2 separate regions of the Homo sapiens genome follow, and region 2 is linked to region 1. A link means that fine-mapping ties the variant in region 1 to the expression of a gene that starts in the linked region. Tissue or cell type: whole blood. Region 1 holds a variant in brackets; the other region holds the start of a gene. All regions are shown on one strand. Distances are between the middles of the regions.

Region 1 (5,146 bases):
ACACACACACACACACACACACACACGGAGCCCTCATCACCGTCATCACCGTCACAGTGGGTGTGTGCTCCCAAAGGGCTTCTACTCATCAGTAGATTTCATGGGCCCGACCTCCCATTTTCCTTTCCCCATTGCTCCCATTCTAAACTGTGGGTCCATCTGTATGTAATGTCTAAAAAGGCGCCCAAACACCAGTTGGAAATAGTTGTTATAGGAAAATGTATTCAGAATTCCAAACAACAGACTTAAAGTGATGAACTTCTAGTGCGTCAAACCTTTCTCCCCTCGTTGGAGAGGCCACAGGGTTAGGCAGGAGCATAGGGACTCTCAGCCTGTGCTGGCCTTTCTCAGTAATCAGAAGCATATGACCCCAGCTAGTATTTTCAGCTAGTTATGCCAGGGACTGTCTTTTATTCCATGAGGTCAAAGGACACACTTGGAATTGGTCACCTGACAAGATTGCATTGTTTCTCTAATTTTTTTTTCCCTAGTTTCTCAGGGCCTGAATTTCATTCCTCTTGCCCAGTGACTTCCCCTTGATGGATTCTAAAGGTCTCACAGAACAGCACCTCTTCTGTCATTTATCTGAGTCTAGGTAAAGGCACAGCGACAGTGAATGTAAGGGCCTTTAAAAGGCTTCAAAAGACAAAGAACATGTTCCTATTTAAAATTAATTTCTCTCTTGTTTTACCTACACTGATTCTTTCTAGGTTCTGAGTGTGTGTGATTTAGGCCCATGCAGCCTCTAACAAATGCAGAAGAGATGGACGCAGGCCGCTGGTGTGGGGTGATGGACGCAGGCCGCTGGCGTGGGGTGATGGACGCAGGCCGCTGGCGTGGGGTGATGGACGCAGGCCGCTGGCGTGGGGTGATGGACGCAGGTCGCTGGCGTGGGGTGATGGACGCAGGTCGCTGGTGTGGGGGTGCATTCCTGCACTCCTGTTTTTCTGTCACAGAACCACCAGTGGCCCAGCATTAACTAAACTAGGCCCAGCCTCATGGCCTGGAATTCCAGTCTGTTATCTGGAGCAAATCAGCATTTCCGTCCAGCGTTCCTAGGCTCCCTTTTATCTGCCCCCCACAGCACTGACTGTTACTAGCGTGAGCCGCCACTTCTCCCCGTTCAGTGCAGGCTGGCAGTACGGGGTTGATTCCTTAGACATATAAAAATCTGGCAAAATCAGAAAACAGTCATTCTCACTTCACACCTGATAGAATAGCCATTGTCAAAAACACAAGAGATAGCCACTGTTGGCGAGGGTGTGGAGAAGAGGGAGCCCCAGCACGCTGCACCGTTGGTAGGAATGTAGGTTGGTACAGCCATGATGGAAAACAATATGGAAATTCCTAAAGAAATAAAACTAGAACTACTATATGACTCAGCAGTCCTTCTTCTGGGCATTGACCCAAAGGAAATGAAATCACTACCTCGTAAAGATAACTGCTCTCCCGTGCTCACGGCAACGTTATTCACAGTAGCCAAGATACGGAAAGAACCTAAATGTCTGTTGATAGATGAATAGAGAAAGAAATTGTAACATACAAGACACACACACACACACACAAAACGGAATATTACTCGGCCTTTAAAAAGAAGGAGTCATACCATTTGCCACAGCGTGGATGAAACTTGGAGGACATTATTGCTAAGTGAAATAAGCCAGACACAGAGAAAAAATATGTCGCATGATCTCACTTATATGTAGAATCTTTTTAAAAAGAGGAAAAGCTGAATACACAGCGGTAGAGAAGAAAATGATGGTTACCGTGGCCACGGCGAGGGTGAGGGAGGAAATGGGGAGATACCAGTCAGGGGATACAGCGTAGCAGACGTGTGGGATGAACGGGTCTAGAGGGTTCATGTGTGACATGAGGGCTATCATCCATAATATCGTATTCATGAATTTTGCGAAAAGAGTTTGTTTTAGGTGCTCTTGCCACACACACAAAGATGAGTAACAATGTGAATTGATGGATATGTTAATTTGCTTGACTATTGTAACCATTTCACTACCTGTGTATTTCAAAATATCATGTTGTATATCTTACATAGAATTCAGAAGACATTCATTCTATTCTGTTGGAAAACATAGACTCAGATATACCAGACAATTCTCTTTTTCCCCCTCCCCTCCCCTCCCTTTCCCTTCCCTTCCTCCTTCCATTCCTCCTCTCCTCCCTTCCTCTTTCTCTCTTCCTTTTTTTCTGTTTCTTTACTTTCTTTCTGTCCTCCCTCCCCGCATCCCTCCCTCCCCCGTCCCCTCCCCTCCCCTCCCTTTCCCTTCCCTTCCTCCTTACATTTCTCCTTTCCTCCTTTCCTCCGTTCCTCTTTGTTTCTTCCTTTTTTTCTGTTTCCTTACTTTCTTTTTCTTTCTTCCCTCCCCTCTCCTCCCCTCCCCTCCCTTCCCCTCTCCCCTTTTTTTTTCAATAGAGATAGGGTCTCGCTACATTTCCCAGGCTGGACATAAAGCCCTGGGCTCCAGCAGTCCTTTTGCCTCAGCCTCCCAGGTAGCTAGGATAACAGGAACACACCACAGCACCCGGCTCAGATGTATTTTTTGCTATATCCCAATTTCATATATTTCATCTTTAAAAGGGGCCAGATGTTATCATTTTCATTCAGGAAATATGTTAATTAGAGCTACATGTATAACTGCCATATTTTATCCAAATCTCACTGAAATATGTAGTATACAAAAGGAATGTCCCTGGGACTTACTAATGTTTTAAAATATTTATGAAAGTGATAGCAGTTGTGTGCATTTCTAGAAAAAGTAATAAATGGGAAGGAAATGGTTTTGCAAAAGAGGATGTGTTTACCCATTTCATCATCATGATGCCCTGAGAGTAAAGAT[A/G]CTAACCAGCCAGAGAGATTCTGTTTTTTCCTAATGTGATTTAAGAGATTTTGATGAAGGTGGCAGTGGGGGTACAGTGTTTAATTAACTAGTACATGTTCTCCTTAATTGCTCCCAATCAATTAAGTCGAACATTCAAGCTGGGGGTACCTGCCCAAGCGCCGTAAGGACGGCATAGCACTGGCAAGAGGCCTGGCGGCTCTGAAGGTGACATATTATGTACTTGTCATAGCCTCACTGTCACGTGCTGGGAGGTGCTTTGTGGATTACAGCAGTGAGGCTGGGGAGCTGCTGGGATTGCGCCAGAAGCCCTTCACAGAGACTGGCAGAGGCCTTGGCTGTGGGCCGCTCTGTGGAACCTATAGCTGTCTTGGAAAAGGCTAGTTATATCCTTGCAGTTGGACAGTGAAAGTATACCTGTCTAGACTAGTTCGCTTCAGTAAATTTGGACTGAGTCCCTGCTTTGTGCCAGGCACAGGGTTAGGCAGCAGGGATATCCGATATAAAAAGACACAGTCTCTGTCCCCAAAGAACTCACAGTTTAATAGGACAGAAAGGGATGTAGGATCAGTATAAACCCCACAACCATAGACATAGTCCAAGGCTTGGGGGCGAGGAGGGAGCTGAACAAAGGACATGGCCTGTGAGCTGGGTTTTCGTGACAAGAAGTTTTCTGGTGGACGAGGAGGGAGAAGGGCACCACAGCCTCAGTGAGGGTAGCGTGTGTAGGCCCAGGAACTTGGGTCTGGGTGGAGTACAGGGGAGAGTGCCGGGGAGAGTGCCAGGGAGAGAGGAGGAGGAGGCTGGCAGGGGTAGAGGCCACATCACCGGGAGCCTTATGTGTTGGGCTAAGGTGACGTTAATTCTATAGGCACTGAGGAGCATGACATTAGCCTGATGCCAGGGCAGAAGACTCTGCAGATGCCTGCCTTCTGGGGGAGGCGCTGTGATGTGTGTGCTAAATGTGTCCCTCCTTGTCCTGGCCAAAGCACACTGTCCGGTGCTCTGGTGGGTAAAACTCCTGCTGTACCTGGCTTCCATGCCATATAGGCCACACTTTCCCAGATAGGACCCCATGCTAGGTGTGGAGGCAGGAGATTCGGAGACCAGTAGGAAACCAGCCCTGTCCATCTGGCCGTCAGACATCCACAGAGGATGAATAAAGGAGGGACAGACATGGCTGGGCCACTCCTTGCCTGTCGCATGAAGCAGGGGGAACGGTGGTGGCGGGGAGATTGGTTTCAGGTGCAGGATCTCAGACAGCTTTATGCAGGGACTGGAAGTTCCAGATTTGCAAATTTGGAAGTTCCAAATTTCCACTACTTTATTCTATAGATATTTATTGTACTTTATTTAGTCTGTCTTCTTTTTTAAGTAAGACAGGGAGAATTTTTCTCTTCTCCCTCCATTTTGTGCCCAGTGAGAAACAGATCCCAATTATTGACTGAAGCTACACTTTAGAAACAACTTTTTCTTAAGAACTTTTACACTGAACAAGATTCAAATATAGTTACTGCATTTTTTTTTTTTTTTTTTTTTGAGACAGAGTCTCGCTGTGTCGCCCAGGCTGGAGTGCAGTGGCGCGATCTCAGCTCACTGCAAGCTCCGCCTCCCAGGTTCACGCCATTCTGCAGCCTCAGCCTCCCCAGTAGCTGGGACTGCAGGTGCCCACCACCACGCCCGGCTAATTTTTTTGTATTTTTAGTAGAGACGGGGTTTCAACGTGTTAACCAGGATGGTCTTGATCTTCTGACCTCGTAATCCACCCGCCTCGGCCTCCCAAAGTGCTGGAATTATAGGCATGAGCCACCGCGCCCAGCCCAGTTACTGCATTTAATTCTTCGTCAGATGGTTCTGTCTTTGCTAACTTGCACAGGGAAAGGGGCTTGTGAACACCTTTATTATGGAGAATGGATTTTACTTTCAGCTGACTTGACTGCGTCCAGGCTGACAGCACAGGCCCCAGATGGTGGTGCTGGTTTGGGAGGCACTGTAATGTGTGTGCTAAATATGTCTCTCTGTGGTCATGATGCCTGGGTGGTGATGGACACAGATCATGGCTGTCCAGCTGCTACCCCACACGTGAGTCCACGCACCTGCGCCAGGGTCAACCTCGTATGTGTGAAGCTGAGCACGTTTATTTATTTCTTAGAGTTTATTATTTTAATCTCTTGGGAAGGGAGAGGGAGAGGAGAAAATAGACCCTCTTCAACAGCAAGCGGTTGTTTGAGAACGCGGTGTCTGTCTGCCATGTCCTCGGTTCCCCTGGTACATTCCACGTTAATTACACC
Region 2 (5,146 bases), 420 kb after region 1:
GGAAGGGTGTGTGTGTTTCTAAAGGAAAACTCCTTTTTAAGATATTGGATGTCTTTAACTGTAAACAAAACGCGACTCTCTTTCATCTCCCCCCACCCCCCAAACAGTTATTTGAAGAATTTGGCAACATTTCAGGGGTCTGAGTCTGAGGTAAACAGCCAGAATTCTTGCACCAAAAAGAACCAAGGGCTAAAGGGTTGCATTAAAGCCTCAAACACCTTGAGAGCAAATTTTTTTTTTTTTTTAATGAGATGTCAGTGACAGCGCAGGGCCGCTCCCAGGGGGTGGGAGGAGGAAGTGAACCCCTCCTCCTCAGGCCCCAGCTGCCCCACAAACAGGAAACTGGCCAGGCACCTACGGCCTGAGACTAGGAACTTCAGCCAACCTTCCCTCACCCGCATCCCAGAGGGGTGCCTCTCTCTCCCTCCTGGCGGGGTTTTCCCCTCTCAAATCTCCCCGCATCCCCACGCGCAACAGAGCCAAAAGTGCTGGGGCGGGAGCGGGGGCCGGGAGGTAGGGGAAAGCGGTCGGGGGAACGCTGGACCTGGGCTCCAAGTGTAGGTCTGGGCCCCAAATGCCCCATTTCCCCCTTCCTGGGGGCGGGCAAGGGACAGGGAGGTTGTCGGGACCACGGATGGGTAGCCACGGTGGAGCGCCGGCGACGCGCGGAGGAGCTCAGCCCGAGTGGGGCTCGTCTGCACTGGCGCCGTCGGCCTGGCGGGACGAGTCCCCGGCGGTGGCGGAGGTGGCGTCAGGGCCCCCGCCCTCGATGGAGCTCTCGCTGCCCGTGCTGTCGCCTGACAGCAGGCGCGTCACCCGCAAGTCGGCCTGCAGGGTGCGCACGTCGTTGCCGAAGCTGAGCTCGCCCAGGTCGCTAATAAGTTGCGACAGCTCAGCCTTCATGTCGGAGGCGCTGCCCAGCAGCAGAGGCGGCGGCCCGGCCCCCGGGCCCAGGGAGCCCCCGCCGCCTCCTAGCGCCTCCCCACGGCCATTCTCCAGAGTATCCAACAAGTCCCCGCACTCAAAGTGCATGGCGACCACTAGCGCACGCTGCGCCTCGGCCTCCTCCTCTGCTGGATCTCCCTCTGCCGCACGGTTCTCCTCCTCCTCCGGGCAGCCCTCGGGTTGCTCCTCTTCCTCTTCCTCCTGCAGCTCCTGCTCCAGCTGTTCGCCGAGCAGGTCCTCGGTGATGGAGCCAAGCTTGGGCGCGCTGCGGCTGCGCTCCACCGGCGGTTTATAGCAGCAGGGTCCGTGTAGGAGCAGCTTGCGCAGCGGCACTAGCGGGATGGTGTGTGCGCCCACCAGCTCCTGCTGCTGGTGACGCGCGTCGTCCCGCCGCTTGAGGCGTTTAAATTCCGCCAGCGCGTTGGCCGACGTCTGGTAGAGCAGCAGGGCCATGGCCTGCGCCTTTTCGGGCTTGGACACCAGCACGGCGTGGCAGCGCAGCATCACGGCCTTGTGCTTCAGCTCGTGCCGGTACACCCAGGCGAAGACCTTGGGCAGCCGCGCGTCGGCCACGCAGTAGGTGACGCGGTGCAGCAGGTAGAGGTGGCCCGGGCGGCGCAGCGCGCGCTCCTCGGCGTGCACCATGCGGATACCCTGCGCACTCACCGTCAGCTTCATCTTGGTGCCCTGACGGCCCGCCTCGCTCTTGCTCCAGATCTTGCCCACAGCAAGGTCGGTGCAGCCGTCGCCGCGCGCCTGGATGGTGGTGGCATTGCCCAGGTAGAGCACGGTGTAAGTTGGGTCCTCGCTAGTGATGTGCAGCTTCTTGCGCTTGGAGCGGAACATGCTGCCCACCCGGCTAAGCGCGCCTTCGGGGCACGCCCGCGCCAGCGAGCTGAGCGCCGAGTAGTGCAGGCTCACAGCGTAGCCCTTGGGCTTGGACGCCTGCCGCGGCGGCGCCTCGGCCAGCAGCTCGAACTTGTGCTTCTTCCACGGCAGCATCTCCGGAGGGCGCCCCGGCGCAGCTGGGCGGCGGCGGCGGCGGAGCGCCGGGTGCGAGGCCCGCTGAGCCACCGGCCCCTGCCAGGCTCGGCCCGGGCAAGATCGAAGAATAAAACTACTGGGAGCGGCCCTGTGGTAGGGAGTTGGGGGGAGGGGAGCAGAGAGAGTGCTTAGGAACCCCGCAGGAGGTGCGGGTAAATTCTCTAAAAAAGAAAATATTCAGCTTCGAGTGTGCAAAAAAGGTTGGTGCGGGGGAGACACGCGCGCACACAGAATTACCCCAGCCTGGGCAAGGGCGAGAGCAAAGAGTCTCAGGCAAGCAACAAAATGCAAGGGAGAAAGAACGAGCGTAGAGTGGAAAATGTCAGGAAAAAAGCTAGAAGCGCGCGTGCAAATAAAGAGAGCCCCAGCAACAGCACCCGGGATGGTGCAAGAATATGCAGGAACTCCTCGGCGAACGTGAGGTGGGTCCCCTAACACACACAACCCTCAGGACTGGGGCCAAAACCCGCGGAAACTCTACAGCGAGTGTGCCTAGGGGCCGGTGCTCCCCACCTCCGAGGGGTGCTGGAGATGGAAAGCCCCCCGTTTGGGCTGGTCTCAAGTCAGCAGCTCGCCCAAAGTGCGGTCGGATGCTGGGTCCGGCTGGCCGCGGCGGGCCCCGCGCAGCAGTCCCGCGGGGACTCACTGCATCTTCGCTCCGCCGGACGCCGGGGACTCGCGCTCGGCCCGCTCAGTGTCCGGGCTGGCCTGGCCGAGACGGCGCTGGGCTCCGAGAACAGGGGACGGGCATGGCCGGGTCCGGGAACCGCCGCTACCTCATTTCTTCCCTCCGAGGCGGTGTCCAGCTCCGCTCCCGGGCTCTCCACGGTCTGCTGCCCGCCTTTGCAGTGCGCCCTCTCCGGTGCTGCGAGCGGCGTCCGGCTCGCCTGCCTCACATCCTTGCCGTCCGGGAGGAAGATCTCGGGTAAATATAGGCCGGCGCGAACCATTCGCCGCGCGGGGACAGGGGAGGAGCAGAGAAGAGGATCTGTTTTGGGCTCCGACTCCGGGCGGATTCCTGGTTTCTTAAAGGGACCGCGTGACAGCCATTGGTCGAGGGAGCGGGGAGACCGGTCCAATCCTCCAATTACATCCCAAATTTACCAGCATCTCTTTTGTCTATGGAAATCACTGGGACCTGGGGTTACCCCGCAGCAAAAAGATTTGAATCCTGACACTCCACCCCCCAGGCTGAATTGCCACTCACTGAATACATGTATGTCTAGATCGAAACTTCTGAGGGAGGTGGCAGAAGATGAGATTACAGATTATAATTTCCTGTACAAAAAGTTTGGGAAAATAGTGGTTTCTTCCTTGTGTGACGGCTTTCTGAGAATGACTGGGTGCTGTTTAATATTATTTTCAGAATTGTATTCCATTAAAGAAAAGAGAGAGGCACAGAAAACACCAAGGCTTATCTCTCACTATCTTGAGCTCGTATTCACAGGTAAGCAGCAGACAGTGTAAAGTGAGGTGAGTGGTAACATGATTGGGGTGACTACTGTAGAATACCGTCAATGAATAAGGCTTTTCCCCGTCCGAACCCCGGCAAGACCCCCTCCTGCTGTCAGGCCTCAGGGTAGAGCAGTTTTCTGAGATACACACAATTTCTAATGCTCGTGTGTCGTTAGGACTTAGTTTACTTTGGCAAGCCGGTCATGCGGTTTCATTCTATCATTGACATATTTTGGATGAGAATTCCTAGTAAAAATTCAAATGACGTTTTTTATTTAAGTGACAAATAATGCCAGGCCACCCTCCAATGGGAGTGATAATTGCATCAGTATTGCTTTTATCATGTGCCAACTGGACAGTGTAGTTGTCTTCTGACCGGCTTGACCCTTAGCCAGTAACTCATTTCTGGGCCCTTGAAACAGCCTGCTTGCCTCTATGGTATGGTCAGTCAAAGCAAAAAGACGTATGGCTGGAGTGGGATCAATGTCCGAATGATCCTGCATCAAACTCCCAGCCTGGTCCTGGAGGAGGACAGTGATCCCTTCCCACCATCCCAGTCCCCTGGGGATCTTTGATGTCTCTGGCTTCCACGCCAGGTCTTCATGCCAGAGTCACTGCAACCATACCTGGAAATTCCCTTGGGATATTCCAACAAAATAAAACTGACCCCTGCCCACCCTCTACCTTTGCCAACTTTTAACCTTCCTTTGAAATCTAACTCAATTTTCTCAGAGTCGTTGATGCTGAGTTTCCATTTAAGTTACTTTGCTGAGTTTCCATTTAAGTTACTTTTCTGACTACCTTTTGGTGCCCGGCCCTGAGCTAGGAGCAGACGGGATTCCTGCCTCCTAGTCCAATGAAGGTTGTAAACTCTACCCAACTCTGGGTTTCCACTGGACTGTGGGTTCTCTGCAAGTACCCTGTATCCCCAATATGGTACAAATAGGCACTCAGTAACTAGAATTAATGAGCAAGATATGCATGTGGACAAGAAGACAGAGTGGGCTAAATGCTATGAGAAAGACTCAAAGCACTATGAGAAGCTGGAGGAAGAAAGCATTCATTGTGACTAGGAAAATCAGAAAAGGCTTCATGGAGGTGGTGACCTTTGAAAGATAAACAGAATTTATCCAAATAGGAAAAGACTGAAGGGCTTTATGGGTATAGAGGGTAGCAAAATTACAGAAGCATGAAAATGCATGCATAAGGCCAGGCGCGGTGGCTCACGCCTGTAATCCCAGCATTTTGGGAGGCTGAGGCGGGTGGATCACTTGAGGTCAGGAGTTCAAGACCAGCCTGGCCAACATGGCAAAACTCTATCTCTACTAAAAATACAAAAATTAGCTGGGCATGGTGGTGCACGCCTGTAATTCCAGCTACTTGGGAAGTTGAGGCAGGAGAATCCCTTGAACCCGGGAGGCGGAGGTTGCAGTAAGCCGAGATCGCGCCACTGCACTCCAGCCTGGATGACACAGTGAGACCGTCTCAAAAAAAAAGAAAGAAAGAAAGAAAGAAAATGCATACACATGTAGTAATTAAGATGGAGCTTGTAACAATCAAAGAATAAACCTTCCTGATTGTGTTTTTTGGCTCTCTTACACTCCAAGGGAAGGAATGGCCTCTTCATGGCTAACTGGCCCCACAGGGTCCTTCAACCAGAGCTATAATGCCTTACTCCTCAGCTGCACTGATGGGTTAATGG

Evidence for each region. PIP is the estimated chance that this variant, and not a neighbour inherited with it, causes the effect.
Region 2: it holds the start of FAM43A, and the variant in region 1 is fine-mapped to the expression of FAM43A in whole blood (TOPMed, PIP above 0.99).

What each region holds. Positions count from the first base shown.
Region 1 is chr3:195,099,079-195,104,224 of GRCh38, reverse strand. The region is part of intron 3 of XXYLT1 (xyloside xylosyltransferase 1); the gene reads left to right. LOC124909476 (a long non-coding RNA gene) reads left to right here. Exons shown (of 2, transcript XR_007096226.1): 1 at 1-595; 2 at 711-1,373. Among named protein-coding and RNA genes, the nearest start is that of XXYLT1-AS1, 7.1 kb to the right of the region's middle. RefSeq lists an enhancer at 388-1,587. The variant A/G (reference allele first, on the strand shown) is at 2,856.
Region 2 is chr3:194,683,628-194,688,773 of GRCh38, reverse strand. FAM43A (family with sequence similarity 43 member A) reads right to left here and starts at 2,891. Exons shown (of 1, transcript NM_153690.5): 1 at 1-2,891. The coding sequence starts at 1,947. The coding sequence ends at 676. It overlaps LOC124909474, which reads left to right and starts at 1,865. Exons shown (of 3, transcript XM_047449428.1): 1 at 1,865-2,914; 2 at 3,356-3,436. The coding sequence starts at 2,521. RefSeq lists silencers at 742-1,041, 1,872-2,061 and enhancers at 1,041-1,544, 1,545-2,050, 2,802-3,161.